Linked DNA regions of Homo sapiens: regions 2, 3, 4 and 5 are each reported to be linked to region 1. Evidence: microRNA targets listed by miRTarBase, many of them from high-throughput screens and not tested one by one. Region 1 holds a microRNA gene; each other region holds the end of a gene's coding sequence. Distances are from middle to middle.

Region 1 (4,152 bases):
CTCCTGCAAGACCCTCTCCCAACTCAGCTGTCCCCCATCTCCCGTCCTCCTCCCCTCTGGCGCGGTCCTGTCCTGCTGAGCTCCTGTGGACCCAGGAGCTGAGGCCCCGCAGCAGGGTCAGGGCAGCCTCAGCTGGCTCTCCCTCCCCATAGTGGACTATTACTTTGGGCCTCCTCCGCCCCAGAAGCCCGATGCTGAGCGCCAGACAGACGAAGAGAAGGAGGAGCTGAGTGAGTGGGACCAAGGACTTCCCACACCAGGCCTGCCCTGAAGGCCACCTGGGGCCTGCCTGATCCACCCCACATGGTCCTCAAAGCCCAGAGCCAGGCTGACTGGCCCCTCCTACCTTGCACCTTCCAGAGAAACCCAAAAAGGAGGACAGCAGCCCCAAGGAGGAGACCGACAAGTGGGCAGTGGAGAAGGGCAAGGACCACAAAGGTGTGTGGCTGGGGCTTGGGGCCTGGGTCCCTGTGGGGCAGCATCTGGACTCCTGATTGCCTCCCGGGCCCTTGGTGCCATGTCCTCCCTTCATTGTCCCTAGAGCCCCGAAAGGGCGAGGAGTTGGAGGAGGAGTGGACGCCTACGGAGAAAGTCAGTAAGTGGGGGGCACAAGGGGGTGAGGGTGGGGGCCACAGGATGGGGGTGCTGGGACAAGTGACTGGCCCAATGTCACAAACAGGACCCAGGTCCCCGGAACCCTTTCCTACTCAGATTCTTGGGACCCAGAAGGGAGGGGCCCCGGGAGCCCAGGATAGCCTCGCTTGGCTGCCCCAGCCCTGGACCCCAGGCTGGCCTGCTTCAGGAGGGTGGCAGCTCCCCAGGGCCCCTAGTGGCTGGGCGTGGTAGGGGGAGGACCTGGGGCCTTGGTGGGGAGTGAGGACCTCAGGTACCTTCACAGGTATCCCTGCAGGGCCATTGTGCAGACGGTCCCCATCTGGATGACATCTGTGGCTGCGCCCTGGGGGAGCTCTACCTGTGATTTCACGTGTGTCCCCTGAGAGCTGGGCATGGTCAGCCCGTTCTCCAGATGGGGCAGCTGAGGCCCAGGGAGGGGAAGCACAGGCTGGGATTGGAAACAGCTCCTGGCCTGGCTTTGAGTCGATTCCAGGTGGGCTGGTGCAGGGCACCAGGGAGCCACCAGCTGACCAGAGCTGCCCTCTGACTGTGCCCCCGATGTGCCGGGAGTGGGCTCTGGGCTCCTTGGTTCTGGGTTTGGTGGAGGGAAGGATGGAGCTAGTGAGCCACCATTCTGGGGTACGCGTCCTCAGAGTGTCCCCCCATTGGGATGGAGTCACACCGTATTGAGGACAACCAGATCCGAGCCTCCTCCATGCTGCGCCACGGCCTGGGGGCACAGCGCGGCCGGCTCAACATGCAGGTGGGCATTGGGATGGGCCCATCTCCCAACTGGGATAAGGGACTCCTCCGCCCATGCTCAGCCTCCCCTGCCCCCTGGACAGACCGGTGCCACTGAGGACGACTACTATGATGGTGCGTGGTGTGCCGAGGACGATGCCAGGACCCAGTGGATAGAGGTGGACACCAGGAGGACTACCCGGTTCACAGGCGTCATCACCCAGGGCAGAGACTCCAGCATCCAGTGCGTGGCCAGGCTCATGGATAGTTGGCAGAGGGGAGTGGCTACATAGGCATGGCTCTGTGTCCCATTAAGGAGATTCCAGTGGGCCCTTCTTTGGCCCAGCCAAAGAAGGCCAAAAAGATCAGTGAGGGACTCACCCTGCCCATCCCCACTCCTCAGCCTGGTCAGTCAGCCCCTGTGTCCTGATAGCACATGAGTTTAGGGACAGATCACCTGCCCATGGCTATGTGACGGGCATAGGACCCAGGCTCAACACCTGGGCCGTGCAGCACCACCCTGCTAGCTCTTAAATTCTTGGGGCTCGGAAGAGGGAGGCTCAGGCCACCTGAGGGCCTGGGAGGGGGAAGACCCTTGCTCTGACCACTGTCCACTCCACAGTGACGATTTTGTGACCACCTTCTTCGTGGGCTTCAGCAATGACAGCCAGACATGGGTGATGTACACCAACGGCTATGAGGAAATGGTGGGCACCATGCCCAGGCTCTTGGCTCTGCTCCCATTGTCTGGGCGAGGGGTGGGCTCTCAGAGGGGCTGGCAGTACTGCTCTGAGGCCTGCCTCTCCCCAGACCTTTCATGGGAACGTGGACAAGGACACACCCGTGCTGAGTGAGCTCCCAGAGCCGGTGGTGGCTCGTTTCATCCGCATCTACCCACTCACCTGGAATGGCAGCCTGTGCATGCGCCTGGAGGTGCTGGGGTGCTCTGTGGCCCGTGAGTGTGGAGGGCTGGCAGGGGCTCTGAGTGGAGGTGGGGTGCTAGGGTGGGCCAGCCGGCACCCAGCTAAAGACAACCCCGCCTCCCTTGCAGCTGTCTACAGCTACTACGCACAGAATGAGGTGGTGGCCACCGATGACCTGGATTTCCGGCACCACAGCTACAAGGACATGCGCCAGGTTGGGAGCATATATCCTGGGGCTGGGGGTGGGACCTGTCTGTGGCTGACGGGAGTGTGTGCCTGGTGCTTCTGTCACTGGGCCCAGTCCCTACTGGTTCCAGGGATGCTGGCTGTCCCTCACCTTAGGAAGGAGGCCAGTACCTGGGGGCTGCGTGAAGGGGTCATGCCCGTCCCTCGCCATAGAGCAGGCCCTGGAAGTGGAAGGGGCATGGTCAGCGGGGGACGGATTGCATGATTGATTCCACGTCCTCCCCCTCTGCCCCAGCTCATGAAGGTGGTGAACGAGGAGTGCCCCACCATCACCCGCACTTACAGCCTGGGCAAGAGCTCACGAGGCCTCAAGATCTATGCCATGGAGATCTCAGACAACCCTGGGGAGCATGAACTGGGTGAGGGTCTGTGGGGGCCAGCAGCTGGCCTCTGCTGCTGATGTGCAGAGCTCACTGCCTCCCGCCTGTTCCGGAGCCTCTCTGGGGATTCTGGCTTGTCTTACAGGGCCCTAGGAGCCCCAGCTGTCCCCCAGACCCTCGGGTATGAGGTGGGTCTGGGTCCTTCCTCAGCTGCCCTGGGCCTCGGGAGACTGAGTGCTCACTGAGGCTCCCGCCCTTGCAGGGGAGCCCGAGTTCCGCTACACTGCTGGGATCCATGGCAACGAGGTGCTGGGCCGAGAGCTGTTGCTGCTGCTCATGCAGTACCTGTGCCGAGAGTACCGCGATGGGAACCCACGTGTGCGCAGCCTGGTGCAGGACACACGCATCCACCTGGTGCCCTCACTGAACCCTGATGGCTACGAGGTGGCAGCGCAGATGGTGGGTTGAAGGGTGAGGCTGGCCAGGGTCCAGGCAGCTGGGGGTTGTGGGGGTGTGGGTAGCCGATGCCTACCCTGCTGGCTCCCCACAGGGCTCAGAGTTTGGGAACTGGGCGCTGGGACTGTGGACTGAGGAGGGCTTTGACATCTTTGAAGATTTCCCGGATCTCAACTCTGTGCTCTGGGGAGCTGAGGAGAGGAAATGGGTCCCCTACCGGGTCCCCAACAATAACTTGCCCATCCCTGAACGCTACCTTTCGCCAGATGCCACGGTGAGGCTACAGCCTGGCTGAAAGGGCAGGAGGGAGCAGCTGGACCCTGGGGTCCTGGTGTTCTGGGCTTGGGGGTGGGGCTGACGGTGCCTGAACTCCAGACGCTGAGGCTCTGGGGGTTGGGGGACAGGGGATCGTGCGAGTACTGGTGTGAAGCTTCATGGAGGGTGATCGGGCTAGGTTGGGGATAGTGGCCGGAGCTGCAGCCCTGGCCTCACACGTGCTGGCCACTCCAGGTATCCACGGAGGTCCGGGCCATCATTGCCTGGATGGAGAAGAACCCCTTCGTGCTGGGAGCAAATCTGAACGGCGGCGAGCGGCTAGTATCCTACCCCTACGATATGGCCCGCACGCCTACCCAGGAGCAGCTGCTGGCCGCAGCCATGGCAGCAGCCCGGGGGGAGGATGAGGACGAGGTCTCCGAGGCCCAGGAGACTCCAGACCACGCCATCTTCCGGTGGCTTGCCATCTCCTTCGCCTCCGCACACCTCACCTTGACCGAGCCCTACCGCGGAGGCTGCCAAGCCCAGGACTACACCGGCGGCATGGGCATCGTCAACGGGGCCAAGTGGAACCC
Region 2 (4,000 bases), 46 Mb from region 1:
ACTTTCCATGTTTTAATTTATGGATGGAAACGAGCTTTTGAGGAAGAGTACTACAGATTTTATACACCACCAAACTTTGTTCTTGCTCTTGTTTTGCCCTCAATTGTAATTCTGGGTAAGATTATTTTATTCCTTCCATGTATAAGCCGAAAGCTAAAACGAATTAAAAAAGGCTGGGAAAAGAGCCAATTTCTGGAAGAAGGTATGGGAGGAACAATTCCTCATGTCTCCCCGGAGAGGGTCACAGTAATGTGATGACAAATGGTGTTCACAGCTGCCATATAAAGTTCTACTCATGCCATTATTTTTATGACTTCTACGTTCAGTTACAAGTATGCTGTCAAATTATCGTGGGTTGAAACTTGTTAAATGAGATTTCAACTGACTTAGTGATAGAGTTTTCTTCAAGTTAATTTTCACAAATGTCATGTTTGCCAATATGAATTTTTCTAGTCAACATATTATTGTAATTTAGGTATGTTTTGTTTTGTTTTGCACAACTGTAACCCTGTTGTTACTTTATATTTCATAATCAGGCAAAAATACTTACAGTTAATAATATAGATATAATGTTAAAAACAATTTGCAAACCAGCAGAATTTTAAGCTTTTAAAATAATTCAATGGATATACATTTTTTTCTGAAGATTAAGATTTTAATTATTCAACTTAAAAAGTAGAAATGCATTATTATACATTTTTTTAAGAAAGGACACGTTATGTTAGCATCTAGGTAAGGCTGCATGATAGCATTCCTATATTTCTCTCATAAAATAGGATTTGAAGGATGAAATTAATTGTATGAAGCAATGTGATTATATGAAGAGACACAAATTAAAAAGACAAATTAAACCTGAAATTATATTTAAAATATATTTGAGACATGAAATACATACTGATAATACATACCTCATGAAAGATTTTATTCTTTATTGTGTTACAGAGCAGTTTCATTTTCATATTAATATACTGATCAGGAAGAGGATTCAGTAACATTTGGCTTCCAAAACTGCTATCTCTAATACGGTACCAATCCTAGGAACTGTATACTAGTTCCTACTTAGAACAAAAGTATCAAGTTTGCACACAAGTAATCTGCCAGCTGACCTTTGTCGCACCTTAACCAGTCACCACTTGCTATGGTATAGGATTATACTGATGTTCTTTGAGGGATTCTGATGTGCTAGGCATGGTTCTAAGTACTTTACTTGTATTATCCCATTTAATACTTAGAACAACCCCGTGAGATAAGTAGTTATTATCCTCATTTTACACATGAGGGACCGAAGGATAGAAAAGTTATTTTTCAAAGGTCTTGCAGTTAATAAATGGCAGAGTGAGCATTCAAGTCCAGGTAGTCATATTCCAGAGGCCACGGTTTTAACCACTAGGCTCTAGAGCTCCCGCCGCGCCCCTATGCATTATGTTCACAATGCCAATCTAGATGCTTCCTCTTTTGTATAAAGTCACTGACATTCTTTAGAGTGGGTTGGGTGCATCCAAAAATGTATAAAAATATTATTATAATAAACTTATTACTGCTTGTAGGGTAATTCACAGTTACTTACCCTATTCTTGCTTGGAACATGAGCCTGGAGACCCATGGCAGTCCATATGCCTCCCTATGCAGTGAAGGGCCCTAGCAGTGTTAACAAATTGCTGAGATCCCACGGAGTCTTTCAAAAATCTCTGTAGAGTTAGTCTTCTCCTTTTCTCTTCCTGAGAAGTTCTCCTGCCTGCATAACCATTCATTAGGGAGTACTTTACAAGCATGAAGGATATTAGGGTAAGTGGCTAATTATAAATCTACTCTAGAGACATATAATCATACAGATTATTCATAAAATTTTTCAGTGCTGTCCTTCCACATTTAATTGCATTTTGCTCAAACTGTAGAATGCCCTACATTCCCCCCACCCCAATTTGCTATTTCCTTATTAAAATAGAAAATTATAGGCAAGATACAATTATATGCGTTCCTCTTCCTGAAATTATAACATTTCTAAACTTACCCACGTAGGTACTACTGAATCCAACTGCCAACAATAAAAAGACTTTTATTTAGTAGAGGCTACCTTTCCCACCAGTGACTCTTTTTCTACAACTGCCTTGTCAGTTTGGTAATTCACTTATGATTTTCTAATGTTCTCTTGGTGAATTTTATTATCTTGTACCCTCTTTTTTTTTTTTTTTTTTTTTAAAGACAGAGTCTTGCTCTGTCACCCAGGCTGGAGTGCAGTGGCACGATCTCGGCTCACTGCAAGCTCTGCCTCCCGGGTTCACGCCATTCTCCTGCCTCAGCCTCCCGAGTAGCTGGGACTACAGGTGCCCGCCACCATGCCCGGCTGATTTCTTTTTGTATTTTTAGTAGAGACGGAGTTTCACCGTGTTAGCCAGGATGGTCTCGATCTCCTGACCTCGTGATCCGCCCGCCTTGGCCTCCAAAGTGCTGGGATTACAGGTGTGAGCTACCGCGCCCGGCCTATTATCTTGTACTTTCTAACTGAGCCCTCTATTTTCTTTATTTTAATAATATTTCTCCCCACTTGAGAATCACTTGTTAGTTCTTGGTAGGAATTCAGTTGGGCAATGATAACTTTTATGGGCAAAAACATTCTATTATAGTGAACTAATGAAAATAACAGCGTATTTTCAATATTTTCTTATTCCTTAAATTCCACTCTTTTAACACTATGCTTAACCACTTAATGTGATGAAATATTCCTAAAAGTTAAATGACTATTAAAGCATATATTGTTGCATGTATATATTAAGTAGCCGATACTCTAAATAAAAATACCACTGTTACAGATAAATGGGGCCTTTAAAAATATGAAAAACAAACTTGTGAAAATGTATAAAAGATGCATCTGTTGTTTCAAATGGCACTATCTTCTTTTCAGTACTACAAAAACAGAATAATTTTGAAGTTTTAGAATAAATGTAATATATTTACTATAATTCTAAATGTTTAAATGCTTTTCTAAAAATGCAAAACTATGATGTTTAGTTGCTTTATTTTACCTCTATGTGATTATTTTTCTTAATTGTTATTTTTTATAATCATTATTTTTCTGAACCATTCTTCTGGCCTCAGAAGTAGGACTGAATTCTACTATTGCTAGGTGTGAGAAAGTGGTGGTGAGAACCTTAGAGCAGTGGAGATTTGCTACCTGGTCTGTGTTTTGAGAAGTGCCCCTTAGAAAGTTAAAAGAATGTAGAAAAGATACTCAGTCTTAATCCTATGCAAAAAAAAAAATCAAGTAATTGTTTTCCTATGAGGAAAATAACCATGAGCTGTATCATGCTACTTAGCTTTTATGTAAATATTTCTTATGTCTCCTCTATTAAGAGTATTTAAAATCATATTTAAATATGAATCTATTCATGCTAACATTATTTTTCAAAACATACATGGAAATTTAGCCCAGATTGTCTACATATAAGGTTTTTATTTGAATTGTAAAATATTTAAAAGTATGAATAAAATATATTTATAGGTATTTATCAGAGATGATTATTTTGTGCTACATACAGGTTGGCTAATGAGCTCTAGTGTTAAACTACCTGATTAATTTCTTATAAAGCAGCATAACCTTGGCTTGATTAAGGAATTCTACTTTCAAAAATTAATCTGATAATAGTAACAAGGTATATTATACTTTCATTACAATCAAATTATAGAAATTACTTGTGTAAAAGGGCTTCAAGAATATATCCAATTTTTAAATATTTTAATATATCTCCTATCTGATAACTTAATTCTTCTAAATTACCACTTGCCATTAAGCTATTTCATAATAAATTCTGTACAGTTTCCCCCCAAAAAAGAGATTTATTTATGAAATATTTAAAGTTTCTAATGTGGTATTTTAAATAAAGTATCATAAATGTAATAAGTAAATATTTATTTAGGAATACTGTGAACACTGAACTAATTATTCCTGTGTCAGTCTATGAAATCCCTGTTTTGAAATACGTAAACAGCCTAAAATGTGTTG
Region 3 (4,000 bases), not on the chromosome of region 1:
TTGGAATATAATGTTCTGACACCAACTGCAGCAGATAGAGGAGGGAATTTGAGGGACTGATGAAATGTTCAGGAGGAGGGTGGAGAAGGGATGGTGAGGAGCCTCAGCTTCAGTTACTTAGAACAAGAAATTAATTTTTTTTATTTTTTGAGACGGAGTCTTGCTGTGTGGCCCGGGCTGGACTGTAGTGGTCCAATCTTGACTTACTGCAACCTCCGCCTCTCAGGCTCAAGCAATCCTCCCACCTCAGCCTCCCGAGTAGCTGGGACTACAGGCCTGTGTCACCACACCTGGCTAATTTTTGTGTTTTTAGTGGAGACGGGGTTTTACCATGTTGGTCAGGCTGGTCTCAAATGCCTGACCTCAAGTGATTCACCTGCCTTGGCCTCCCAAAATGCTGGGAGTACAGGTGTGAGCCACTGCACCCTGCCCAAGAAATTAGTCTTTGCCTCACTGTTTTCTGTGTTCCATGTATAGTATCTGAACTTTTGGGCCTCATTTTGTAAGATGTTTTTCAAAGGTTCATGTTTTCCATTGCAGCCCAGTTCCCTGAGGCATGATGAAGCAGTCAGATCCCAGCTCAGCCACTGAAAAGCTATGAAACTTCAAGGCAAATTCTTCAAATCACAATGTATATATCCTTATCCATGCTAGGTGCACTTTCTACTTGCCTCAAGGGATTAGGGAAGTTCCTCTCTTCTGTATTCACATAATGGTTGGACTCTTGGGTGGCTGAGGAAGGGGTTGGAAGGATTGGAATCGTCTGTTTATATCCAGAGAAAGGGAATTTAACTTCAGCCTGCAGCCTTGTGGCACATTAAGGGCCCTACCCATATCATGTAGAGGTGGGGTGGGAAGGGGATAGTCTGAGAATCACCTTGGTGCCTTTCTTTAAGCTATCCCTTTCCCATCAGTGTCTTTTCCTCCCGACCTTTAAGGGAGCCCTAAGCCTTAAACCCATCACCAGAAACCACAAGTTAAAATGTACAATAGAGGTGTCTCTGGGTCCAACCCCCCACCCCCCCGTGAAGGACAGCATCCTGAGCAAGGCAGGGAAGATGCTTTCCAGACCAGGGGCCACACTTGGTCAGTGGCTGCTTTGGCTCCAGCTGATGGGTCTGCACTGGAGCCCTCCAGGGGGCACTTCAAGTACTAACAGGACCCTGGTGTGGGCTGGGCCTCCTGCATAGATGTGAGGCTAGGCACTTGGCTTTCTTCCTGGTTCTATGAGCTACTATTTTACTGTATGCTTAAAAGTTCCTTTTGGCCGGGCGTTGTGGCTGTAATCCTAGCACTTAGGGAAGTCGAGGTGGGAGGATTGCCTGAGTTTGAGATCAGCCTGGGCAACATGTAGAGACACTGTCTCTACCTTAAAAAAGAAAAAAAAAATTAGGCAGTTGTGGTGGCACACACCTCTGGTTCCAGCTACTTGGGAGGCTGAGAGGCAGGAGGATCACTTGAGCCTGGGAGGTGGAGGCTCCAGTAACCTGTGATCCCACCACTGCATTCCAGCCTGGGTGATGGAGCAAGACCCTGTTTCAACAACAACAAAAAAGTTCCTATCACTAAAATTATTAAAATATTTAACTAAAAAAGCTAGATTTTTGAAGAAAATTTGATTTACTCCTTGGTCTATGCATCTAATTCTAGATATCAGTATTTGTATACTCTCTGTACATATTCTGATTTGAAGAATTTTCAAATATATATGGGTTTATTTTTTAAAACATGGCAAATATAGATTTTACATTTAGGAATATGTTAATATGTTTTATATTTAAAGGAAGGACTTGAGCAGTGCTTTGTTGTCTTTTTTTTCCTGGTAGCTCTATGCACCATTTCTACTGAGATTTTAATAGATAATTCATACCCTGAAAACTGAACCTGCGATTTTTGAATGAGTAAACTACAATTAAGGAGGTCATTTTCTTCTCATGTAAAGAAGGAAGAAACCACAAGAAAGAGAGATATACCTTTTATTTAAAGAAAGGTGTGAAAAGCAAATTTATTAACAAATTTAACACTGCTTGCATCTAGAAGATAGGATTTGAAATTGTGTTGCTTTCTCAAGCTGATTACATCAAAGTATATTAGAAAACAAAAACAAAATAAGGGGCCAGGTGCAGTGGCTGAACAAGGGGCCTGTAATCCCAGCACTTTGGGAGGCTGAGGCGGGTGGATCATGAGCTCAGGAGTTCAAGATCAGCCTGGCCAAGATGGTGAAACCCCGGCTCTACTAAAAATACAAAAAATTAGCTGAGTGTAGTGGTGGGTGCTTGTAATCCCAGCTACTCGGGAGGCTGAGGCAGAGAGTTGCTTGAATCTGGGAGGTGGAGGTTGCAGTGAGCCGAGATCACGCCATTGCACTCTAGCCTGGGCGACAGAGGGAAACTCTGTCTCAAAACAAAACGAAACAAAACAAAACAAAACAAAAAACACATTTTCCAACACTTGTGAACCATGTTGACTACATACAGCTTTGGATTTCTGTGAATCTAGGCAAGGAACAGACAGTTAAAATGTAAATGAAGCCCAGCACAGTGGCTCATGCATGTAATCCCAACACTTTGGGAGGCCAAGGGGGACTGTGGATCCCTGGAGCCCAGGAATTCGACACCAGCCTGGATAATATGTTGAAACCCTGTCTCTACAAAAAATACAAAACTTAGCCTTGTGTGGGGGTGTACACTTGTAGTGCCAGCTACTTTGGAGGCTGAGAGCTGGGAGGATCACTTGAGCCTGGGAAGTCGAGGCTGCAGTGAGCTGTGATCACACCACTGCACTGTAGCCTAGGTGACAGAGTGAGACCCTGTCTAGAAAAAAATTTAAAAGAGAAAAAGTAAAGGAGACATTCAGTATTTGGACCTGTAGAGAAGCATGGAAAAGCAAGAATAAAATACTTTTATTAGGTCCAATTTTTAACATGATCAAACAAGAATAAGAAAAATACCATAGAGTTAATTAAAACTAACCTGTAAGGCCCAGTGAAGAATGAGACAGACATGTGGAAACAAGATCTAATACCACTGAAAACAAGGAAATGCTTTGTTTCAGGGCTGGTTTACTGTGTTTCCATGGATTTGCAACTCATGAAGATATAGTGTGGCTTACTTTTGTGTAGTCTAGATAATATAACATAATTTCTTTTATTTTCTTCAATAACTTCCTTTTAACATTTATAATTTTCTACATTTGAGAACCTTACTTGGGTTATAAAATTGGAATGTAACTGTTGATTTTAGTTCGATGCCTCTGTGAAATACATTCTGCTATCCACACAATATTTCTAATTTCCTGTTCCTTCAGCTTTACATATGCATAAAACACACCGTAGTGGAACTGTCTGTTGAATGCCAGCACATTCATTTGTACCTGAGGAAAGAAAAAAAGTAACACAGATCATCAACTTATTTGGAACATTATGGAATAATATTAAGCTACTGACTGGCTTGAACTTGTGCAGTGCTTATTTGTGTTTAAACAGGCAATCTCTAAATTGGGCCAAATAGAGGAGTATGGTGACAACTCAGAAAGTTCTAAAGAGAGAGTGTCACTCTGCAGATAAATGTAGACAACGGAAGTTATTAAAGTAAGTTTGTAGAATCACAAGAAAAGCTCCAAATTGAAATAGGAACGCTTTCACACTGTTAGTGGGAGTGTAAATTAGTTCAACCATTGTGGAAGATAGTGTGGCAATTCTTCAAGGATCTAGAACCAGAAATATCATTTGACCCAGCGATCCCATTACTGGGTATATACCTAAAAGATTATAAATCATCCTACTATAAAGACACCTGCACACATATGTTTATTGCAGCACTTTTCCCAATAGCAAAGACTTGGAACCAACCCAAATGCCCATCAGTGATAGCCTGGATAAAGAAAATGTGGCACATATATACCATGGAATACTATGCAGCCATAAAAAAGGATGAGTTCATGTCCTTTGCAGGGACATGGATAAAGCTGGAGACCATCATTCTCAGCAAACTAACACAGG
Region 4 (4,000 bases), not on the chromosome of region 1:
AGGAAGTCACTTGGAGCCATCCTGGCTCAAGTTCAAGCGCTGGTCCCATCACTCATTTTTGACCTCTCATTATTTGAATAAAGGGGTCTTAATTCATATTCATAAGTGATGTGTACTGCCAGATACACACCTATAATCAGCACTTTGGAAGGCTGAGGCAGGAGGATTGTTTGAGCCTAGGAATTTGAGGGTGCAGTGAGCTATGATTGTGCCACTAAATTCCAGCTTTGGTGACAGAGCCGAGACGCTGTCTTTTAAAAAAGTGACATGTACATAATGCCTGGCATCTAGCAGTGACAGCACAGGCTTGGAGAGGAACTTGAGTCCAAGGCTCGAGCACTGTGGCTTATTGAGTGAGTCCCCTATAAGGTGCCTGACTCCCCAGGGTGGAGACTGCAGGGTAAGAGTGAACAGGTCAACAGTCCCTGCCTGCAAGCACCTTACAGCTAAGGGATAGAATCATTTGGCCCTTGAGTCCAGTCACCCTGTCTGAGTTCATTCAGCATGTTCACTTGTGTTTGCCAGGCACTGGGGCCACAAGGGCACATCATTCTATACTCTGTTCTGCAAGGCTCACCAAGGGCAGGAGAATCTGCCCAACCTTGGATGCCAAGGCCAGGCCCGCCTCTCGTCCCTTCTCTTCCCAGGCCCCCCCGGCCTGCCACTTCAGTCAACTCCACTGAGGAGACTGCCACTACAGTTGTTGCTGCTGCCTCCTCCACCAGCATCCCTAGCTCAGAGGCCACGACCCCAACCCCAGGAGCCTCCCCACCAGCCCCTGAAATGGAAAGGCCTCCAGGTAGGTGTGATTGGCCTCCAGCCGGGGGAGCAGGGAACTTCTCTAGGTTCCACTTCCAGTCTCTCTGTCCCCAGCTCCTGAGTCAGTGGGCACAGAGGAGATGCCTGAGGATGGAGAGCCCGATGCAGCAGAGCTCCGCCGGCGCCGCCTGCAGAAGCTGGAGTCTCCTGTTGCCCACTGACACTGCCCCAGCCCAGCCCCAGCCTCTGCTCTTTTGAGCAGCCCTCGCTGGAACATGTCCTGCCACCAAGTGCCAGCTCCCTCTCTGTCTGCACCAGGGAGTAGTACCCCCAGCTCTGAGAAAGAGGCGGCATCCCCTAGGCCAAGTGGAAAGAGGCTGGGGTTCCCATTTGACTCCAGTCCCAGGCAGCCATGGGGATCTCGGGTCAGTTCCAGCCTTCCTCTCCAACTCTTCAGCCCTGTGTTCTGCTGGGGCCATGAAGGCAGAAGGTTTAGCCTCTGAGAAGCCCTCTTCTTCCCCCACCCCTTTCCAGGAGAAGGGGCTGCCCCTCCAAGCCCTACTTGTATGTGCGGAGTCACACTGCAGTGCCGAACAGTATTAGCTCCCGTTCCCAAGTGTGGACTCCAGAGGGGCTGGAGGCAAGCTATGAACTTGCTCGCTGGCCCACCCCTAAGACTGGTACCCATTTCCTTTTCTTACCCTGATCTCCCCAGAAGCCTCTTGTGGTGGTGGCTGTGCCCCCTATGCCCTGTGGCATTTCTGCGTCTTACTGGCAACCACACAACTCAGGGAAAGGAATGCCTGGGAGTGGGGGTGCAGGCGGGCAGCACTGAGGGACCCTGCCCCGCCCCTCCCCCCAGGCCCCTTTCCTCTGCAGCTTCTCAAGTGAGACTGACCTGTCTCACCCAGCAGCCACTGCCCAGCCGCACTCCAGGCAAGGGCCAGTGCGCCTGCTCCTGACCACTGCAATCCCAGCGCCCAAGGAAGGCCACTTCTCAACTGGCAGAACTTCTGAAGTTTAGAATTGGAATTACTTCCTTACTAGTGTCTTTTGGCTTAAATTTTGTCTTTTGAAGTTGAATGCTTAATCCCGGGAAAGAGGAACAGGAGTGCCAGACTCCTGGTCTTTCCAGTTTAGAAAAGGCTCTGTGCCAAGGAGGGACCACAGGAGCTGGGACCTGCCTGCCCCTGTCTTTTCCCCTTGGTTTTGTGTTACAAGAGTTGTTGGAGACAGTTTCAGATGATTATTTAATTTGTAAATATTGTACAAATTTTAATAGCTTAAATTGTATATACAGCCAAATAAAAACTTGCATTAACAATTGGTGGGGTTTGTGTCACAGAATCGATCAAATCAGTGTCGGGCTCCTTGCTGTGGCTGTACACTTGAAAATGGAATGGAATCTCCAGGAGTGAGGGTTTCCATGGAAGCCAGCACTATCCTTGGGGACACCACTGACCATTAACAGATTAGGAAGATGTGCCCATTTTACACACAGAGAAGCAGCCCAGAGTTCAGTGCCCTGCTTCAGGGCAGAGACCAAGTTGGGGAGTCAGGAACTGAAAGCTGTCTTAGCCAGTTTGGGGGCAGGGTGGGGTCTCAGGCCTTTGGCCCCTGTGACTCCAAGTATAAGGCATATATGAAGGCTAGTGAGCTGGGGTTGGGATGGGATGGCAGGGTGAAAGGTCAGCATATTCCTGCCTGCAAACCCCTCCCCAGCCTTGATTGCAGGTCAGAAGGCTGCAGGGGGATGTCCCTATGCTGGCTGTGAGTTCCCAGCCACTCCCTTGTGGTCAGGCCAGCAAGTCTGGTCTGCAATGGAACAGTGACCAAGAACGTGCCTCCTACCTCTCTATCAGAGCCCGGGGCTAACGTGGGCACTCTGTGCCCCAGTGCCAGCACTGTACTTTGAACAGAAGATCTCCAAGACCCATGCCCGAGTCATCTGTGTTCTCCATCACCTGCACCAAACAAGATCTGGCCTAGAGCAAAGGCTTGGGGGTATTTGCAACAGTGAGCTTCGGAGGGCCAAGGAAACAAAGTGCCCAGTGGCTCTGCCCTGTGCTACCTTCCCCTAAACTGGGGTTGGGCTACTGCTTCCACCAAATAACAACTAGAATTTGAATTGCTGAGCCCAAGGAAAGAAAAACAAAACAGGCCAAGGTGGACCAGGCACATGGCTCATGCCTATAATCCCAACGCTTTGGGAGGCCAAGGTGGGCGGATCACTTCGAGTCAGGAGTTTGAGACCAGCCTGGCCAACATGGTGAAACCCCATCTCTACTAAAAATACAAAAATTAGCAGGCTGTGGTGGTGGGCGCCTGTAATCCCAGCTACTCAAGAGGCTGAGGCAGGAGAATCCCTTGATCCCAGAGGTGGAAGTTGCAGTGAGCCAAGATCATGCCACTGCACTCCACCCTGGGCAACAGAGTGAGACTCCGTCTCAAAAAACAAAAAAGAACAGGCCAAGATAGGAGGGAGAGAAAGCTGCTGACGCCCCCCATTAGCCTGGTGATCCCTATTTGGTCTCCCACATTAGGCACTCTCCCCCAGCATGTACATAGAGTTGTTTTCTCCTTTATGCAAGCAAGGCCTGACCCCAAAGTCCTTTAGCCCTAGTTTCTGTATCCCCTGTCTCAGGGGCTCCAACACCCACCTCCCTCCTCCTGAGGCCCCCTAGACTTGATCCACAGGGCATGCTGACAAGCAGGCTGCTCGGCTGGGCCTCAGAAGCCTTTCTCCAAGAGCCAGGCTTTAAGCTCCTGGTCAAAGTAGCCCTTGATCCGTAGGGTACCTGTCACCTCATTGACCTGGGTGACAGGTGTCTTCCCCAGCAGCGGGCTCAGAAAATCTTCCACGTCTTTCTGCAGGGCCTGGGGAAAGATGACAAATCAGGTCAGGCCAAGAGTCCCTTCCCTTAAAAAGACTCCTGTCCCTTCAGCCCTGAAAGGGTCAGGCCCAGTCCCAGACCCACCCACCCACTTACCCAGATGTCCCCTTCCACTTTCCGGATCACAGTCATCTGCCGGTTGCCATGCGTGATGTCCTTGTAGACGGGGATGTTGTGCATCCGAGAGCGTCGTACAAAGTAAGGCAGGTTGGGTGGGGGGTCTGCAACAGGGAAAGACACTGTTAAATCAACTCTTCCTACGTGCCATCCCACCTCAGCCAAGGCCCTTGCTCTCAGTCTGCAGAGGGCCAGTGCACCCAGCTGGACCAAGCCACCTCCAGACTTTA
Region 5 (4,000 bases), not on the chromosome of region 1:
TTTGTATTTTTATTAGAGACGGGGTTTCACCATCTTGGCCAGGCTGGTCTCGAACTCCTGACCTCATGATCTGCCCATCTCAGCCTCCCAAGGTGCTGGGATTACAGGTGTGAGCCACTGCGCCCGGCCTAGCAAATGTATTCTTGGTTTTGTTTTCAGATATCATATGACCTCAAGTTCATTTTTTGTAGAAATTATTATAATGTTTCCAAAGTTTAAATTATCTTACGGTTATTTCAAGGTGTCAATAATATCACACTGTCCCAGAGTCAGCAGGTATTCTCACAGTGACTCATGAGGCCATTTTTAGTTTTCCCATTTGTATGATTGGACACTGCCTGGAATAGTGTCCTGGAATAAGTGTCAGGAATATCTTCCTTTTGTTCTGGAGTTCTCACTGCCATGAAGGGCAGTATTCATATTGGGAAATGGAGATAACGGAAGATCCAGAGAACACAAATTGGCTTTGAGTCATGTGATTAGGCTTCCTGAGAGGTTCAGTGTCACCCTGACTATCTCCTTAGAAGTGTGGATGTTGAACCAGAACAGTGCTCCAGAAGGAGTGCTCAGTTTCATAGAGCAATCTGTGTTTTTTAGAAAAAGAATCCTTTTGCTAATGTAGTGAATATTGGGGGCAAGTTGAAATTTTGCATTTCCTAACGTCTTTTATTTATGCCTAGATGATGGACCATTTGGATTGTGCAACAAATGAAGAAAACCCTGTGATATCTGGTGAACAGATTGTCCAGCAATAATATTATGTGGAACTGCTATAATGTGTCATTGATTTTCTACAAATAGACTTCGACTTTTTAAATTGACTTTTGAATTGACAATCTGAAAGAGTCTTCAATGATATGCTTGCAAAAATATATTTTTATGAGCTGGTACTGACAGTTACATCATAAATAACTAAAACGCTTTGCTTTTAATGTTAAAGTTGTGCCTTCACATTAAATAAAACATATGGTCTGTGTAGTTTCCGAGATGTACTATATACAGTATATTTTTCTAAAAAAAAATGCCTTGACCCACCCCTATACTTTTTTTTAACGAAATCTGTTTCTTTCAGCTCTGATGGTAGATACAAGTAGTTACTATTTCTGAATGGGTTTTACTGTAAAGAATTATGCAAATTGGCCAGGCGCGGTGGCTCACGCCTGTAATCCCAACACTTTGGGAGGCCAAGGCGGGCGGATCACGAGGTCAGGAGATCGAGACCATCCTGGCTAACACGGTGAAACCCCTCTCTACTAAAAATACCAAAAATTAGCTGGGCGTGGTGGAGGGTGCCTGTAGTCCCAGCTACTGGGAAGGCTGAGACAGGAGAATGGCGTGAACCCGGGAAGTGGAGCTTGCAGTGAGCCAAGATCACGCCACTGCACTCCAGCCTGGGCGACAGAGTGAGACTCCATCCCAAAAAAAAAGATTTATGCAAATTATATCTGCTCTGTAGAAATAACTGTTTAACACCATGCAAGAAGGCGGTTCAACGGTGAAAATTTGGACCTTATATCACTGCAGAGGTTAGAAATACATAATTTTGGAAATATAAGTGCATATTTTTGTAGTATTTTTTTAAACCCAATCCTTTCATAAACTTGAGAACTGAAATTACTTCAGACTGCACGTGTATTATATTAAGAACATTTTTCCAGATATAGAGAAACATAATATATAGAACTAGTCACTAAAAGGAGACAGACACTGAAATCTAGTTTTCATTGGTTTGACAGCCTTTTTTTTTTAAATGTAGCTTAAATTTCAGTACTAACATTCAGTTTCACTTTGGTATTTCTGATCTTTGCAATTTGGTTCTGTTAATGTTAAGGTTTGATTTTTTAAAAAAATTATTTTTCTTAAGAAATTATGTATTAATACATATGGCTCATCGTTGAATACAGCATTCCTAACATTATCCCACATTCCCCCACTCCCACCCGTTATCTTTTTTTCTTCCTGATGCCCACCCCTTTTCCCATAGGTAATGATTCTTAATCTTGGTGGAGGATGTACAAAGTGCGGTTCAGAGAAAAGAATTGGCAACAACAGCAAGAGACTTGGTGTTAGTCTCAGTTTAATTACAATACAAGGAAGAGTTGAGTAATTTGCCGCATCTCAAGACCTTGTATCTCAGTTTTCTTTTTTTTTTTTTTTTTTTTTTTGAGACGGAGTCTCGCTCTGTCGCCCAGGCTGGAGTGCAGTGGCGGGATCTCGGCTCACTGCAAGCTCCGCCTCCCGGGTTCACGCCATTCTCCTGCCTCAGCCTCCCAAGTAGCTAGGACTACAGGCGCCCGCCACTACGCCCGGCTATTTTTTGTAGTTTTAGTAGAGACGGGGTTTCACCGTTTTAGCCGGGATGGTCTCGATCTCCTGACCTCGTGATCCGCCCGCCTCGGCCTCCCAAAGTGCTGGGATTACAGGCGTGAGCCACCGCGCCCGGCCATATCTCAGTTTTCTAATCTGTAAAATGAGTAGGTTAGACCAGCTAATCACTCTGGTACCTTCCAACTTGAAAAAAGTTTTTTCCCCATTCTTTGGTAAATTTTAGATGTGGCCTGAACATTCTCCTGGAAGTCAGAGGTCAAATTATCTTTCCATTTTCTTTTATTTTAGTAAGAATTTCGCAAATGACAAGTGATAACAAAGGCAGCAGGATTTTTCATTTCTCTGTAAATAATGTATAAAATATGTGAACAGAACTATATCTTTCATCTAAGGCCAGTTCAATTTATTAAAAATAAAACTAATGCCTTTTAAAATTGATCAGACCTTTGATACTTGAACTAAATTTTGCATTAGAGACTTTTTAAAAATTGTTCGCTTTTGCTGAATAAATTGCAAATAGAGAAGCTTCATTGACAGTCAGTCCCTCTCTGCTTAATGCAGTTATGGGTCCTTTCGTTTATGGCAAATGACTTACCTGACAAGAGTTAATTTTGCCTCCATTGTATCAAGTTTGAATATTTTCCAAGAAATCTGATTTATTTGGCAGACTCTGAGAGAGAGAACAGATTAAGTGCCGTTTTAAAACTCTGTATTTTCATTTATAATAATAAAATATTTGCCAAAATACAGCTGTTTTGTAAAATTATCTGCACCCTCATCCAAGCTTTATATTTAATAGCCTTAATCACATTTTATGAAGAATGTTAAAGAAAATTTTTTTTTTACTACATCGAAATGAGATAATTAATTTCTTTTTTTTTTTTTTGGAAATGGAGTCTCCCTCTGTCACCCAGGCTGGAGTGCAGTAGCAAGATCTTGGCTCACTACAACCTCTGCCTCCTGGTTCAAGCAATTTTCCTGCCTCAGCCTCCCAAGTAGACGGGATTACAGGTGCGTGCCACCACACCTGGCTAATTTTTGTATTTTTAGTAGAGACGGGGTTTCACCTTGTTGGTCAGGCTGGTCTTGAGCTCCTGACCTCATGATCTGCCCGCCTCAGACTCCCCAAGTGCTGGGATTGCAGGCATGAGCCACCGCGCCTGGCAAAATAAGATAATTTCTCAAAATAATTTGGTTTCATATAACTGGAGTAGTAATTAATATTTTAACTTCATCAACTAGATGTATCTCCTCAGTAGCATAGTAACTGGTACATCCAGAAATCTGAAATCCGAGTTACTTGATACAAATTCTACTTTATCTAACCATTAGTTATTAAGGAGGTAAAATCTTGTTCTAATTTGCTATTAAAATCTTATTGGTTAAATAGAAATAAGAAAAAGTATAATTAAGTTTCTTCATCCTCAATGTCAACTTTATATTGTAATTAAATGTGTAGCAACCAAGCTGACAATAGTGATTAAGAAATTAAAGTACAGAAATATTTTATTTGGGGACTCAAAATGAACAAAAGATAGATAAGATTAAAATTTCACTTAAAAAGCTGCCATCTCTTCCTCTCTTGCCCTCCCACCACCAATAACTTTAAGGGGAAGAGAAGCTGGTTTTTTCCCTAAACATGTCTTTAAAATAATGATACACTGTATTTATT

The links. Region 1 holds the annotated microRNA hsa-miR-4649-3p (UCUGAGGCCUGCCUCUCCCCA, at 2,145-2,165, shown strand). A microRNA usually pairs through its seed, bases 2 to 8, with sites in the 3' UTR of a target mRNA and lowers its output. Matches are read on the target gene's strand: a 7mer-m8 pairs with bases 2 to 8, a 7mer-A1 pairs with bases 2 to 7 and ends in A, and an 8mer does both.
Region 2: the mRNA of STEAP2 is a reported target of hsa-miR-4649-3p. Seed matches in the 3' UTR shown: 7mer-m8 at 2,294-2,300 and 8mer at 3,090-3,097.
Region 3: miRTarBase lists ATP6V0D2 as a target of hsa-miR-4649-3p. Seed matches in the 3' UTR shown: 7mer-m8 at 2,301-2,307 and 7mer-m8 at 2,167-2,173.
Region 4: the mRNA of MRPL49 is a reported target of hsa-miR-4649-3p. Seed matches in the 3' UTR shown: 7mer-m8 at 3,430-3,436 and 7mer-m8 at 3,109-3,115.
Region 5: the mRNA of SPPL2A is a reported target of hsa-miR-4649-3p. Seed matches in the 3' UTR shown: 7mer-m8 at 2,260-2,266, 7mer-m8 at 3,309-3,315 and 8mer at 3,442-3,449.

The regions. Positions count from the first base shown.
Region 1 is chr7:44,108,747-44,112,898 of GRCh38, forward strand. It overlaps MIR4649 (microRNA 4649), which reads left to right and starts at 2,103; the gene lies at 2,103-2,166. It overlaps AEBP1 (AE binding protein 1), which reads left to right. Exons shown (of 21, transcript NM_001129.5): 7 at 153-230; 8 at 361-438; 9 at 542-595; 10 at 1,269-1,378; 11 at 1,461-1,600; 12 at 1,979-2,063; 13 at 2,167-2,311; 14 at 2,408-2,493; 15 at 2,761-2,884; 16 at 3,108-3,304; 17 at 3,396-3,575; 18 at 3,812-4,152.
Region 2 is chr7:90,232,370-90,236,369 of GRCh38, forward strand. It overlaps STEAP2 (STEAP2 metalloreductase), which reads left to right. Exons shown (of 6, transcript NM_001244944.2): 6 at 1-4,000. The coding sequence ends at 255. Among named protein-coding and RNA genes, the nearest start is that of CFAP69, 11 kb to the right of the region's middle. RefSeq lists a silencer at 2,191-2,396.
Region 3 is chr8:86,152,188-86,156,187 of GRCh38, reverse strand. It overlaps ATP6V0D2 (ATPase H+ transporting V0 subunit d2), which reads right to left. Exons shown (of 8, transcript NM_152565.1): 8 at 1,963-3,372. The coding sequence ends at 3,211. Among named protein-coding and RNA genes, the nearest start is that of ATP6V0D2, 55 kb to the right of the region's middle.
Region 4 is chr11:65,125,362-65,129,361 of GRCh38, reverse strand. It overlaps MRPL49 (mitochondrial ribosomal protein L49), which reads right to left. Exons shown (of 4, transcript NM_004927.4): 3 at 3,750-3,874; 4 at 1,991-3,636. The coding sequence ends at 3,490. It overlaps SYVN1 (synoviolin 1), which reads left to right. Exons shown (of 16, transcript NM_172230.3): 15 at 648-799; 16 at 874-2,083. The coding sequence ends at 980. Among named protein-coding and RNA genes, the nearest start is that of MIR6751, 2.6 kb to the left of the region's middle.
Region 5 is chr15:50,704,555-50,708,554 of GRCh38, reverse strand. It overlaps SPPL2A (signal peptide peptidase like 2A), which reads left to right. Exons shown (of 15, transcript NM_032802.4): 15 at 681-4,000. The coding sequence ends at 755. Among named protein-coding and RNA genes, the nearest start is that of TRPM7, 20 kb to the right of the region's middle.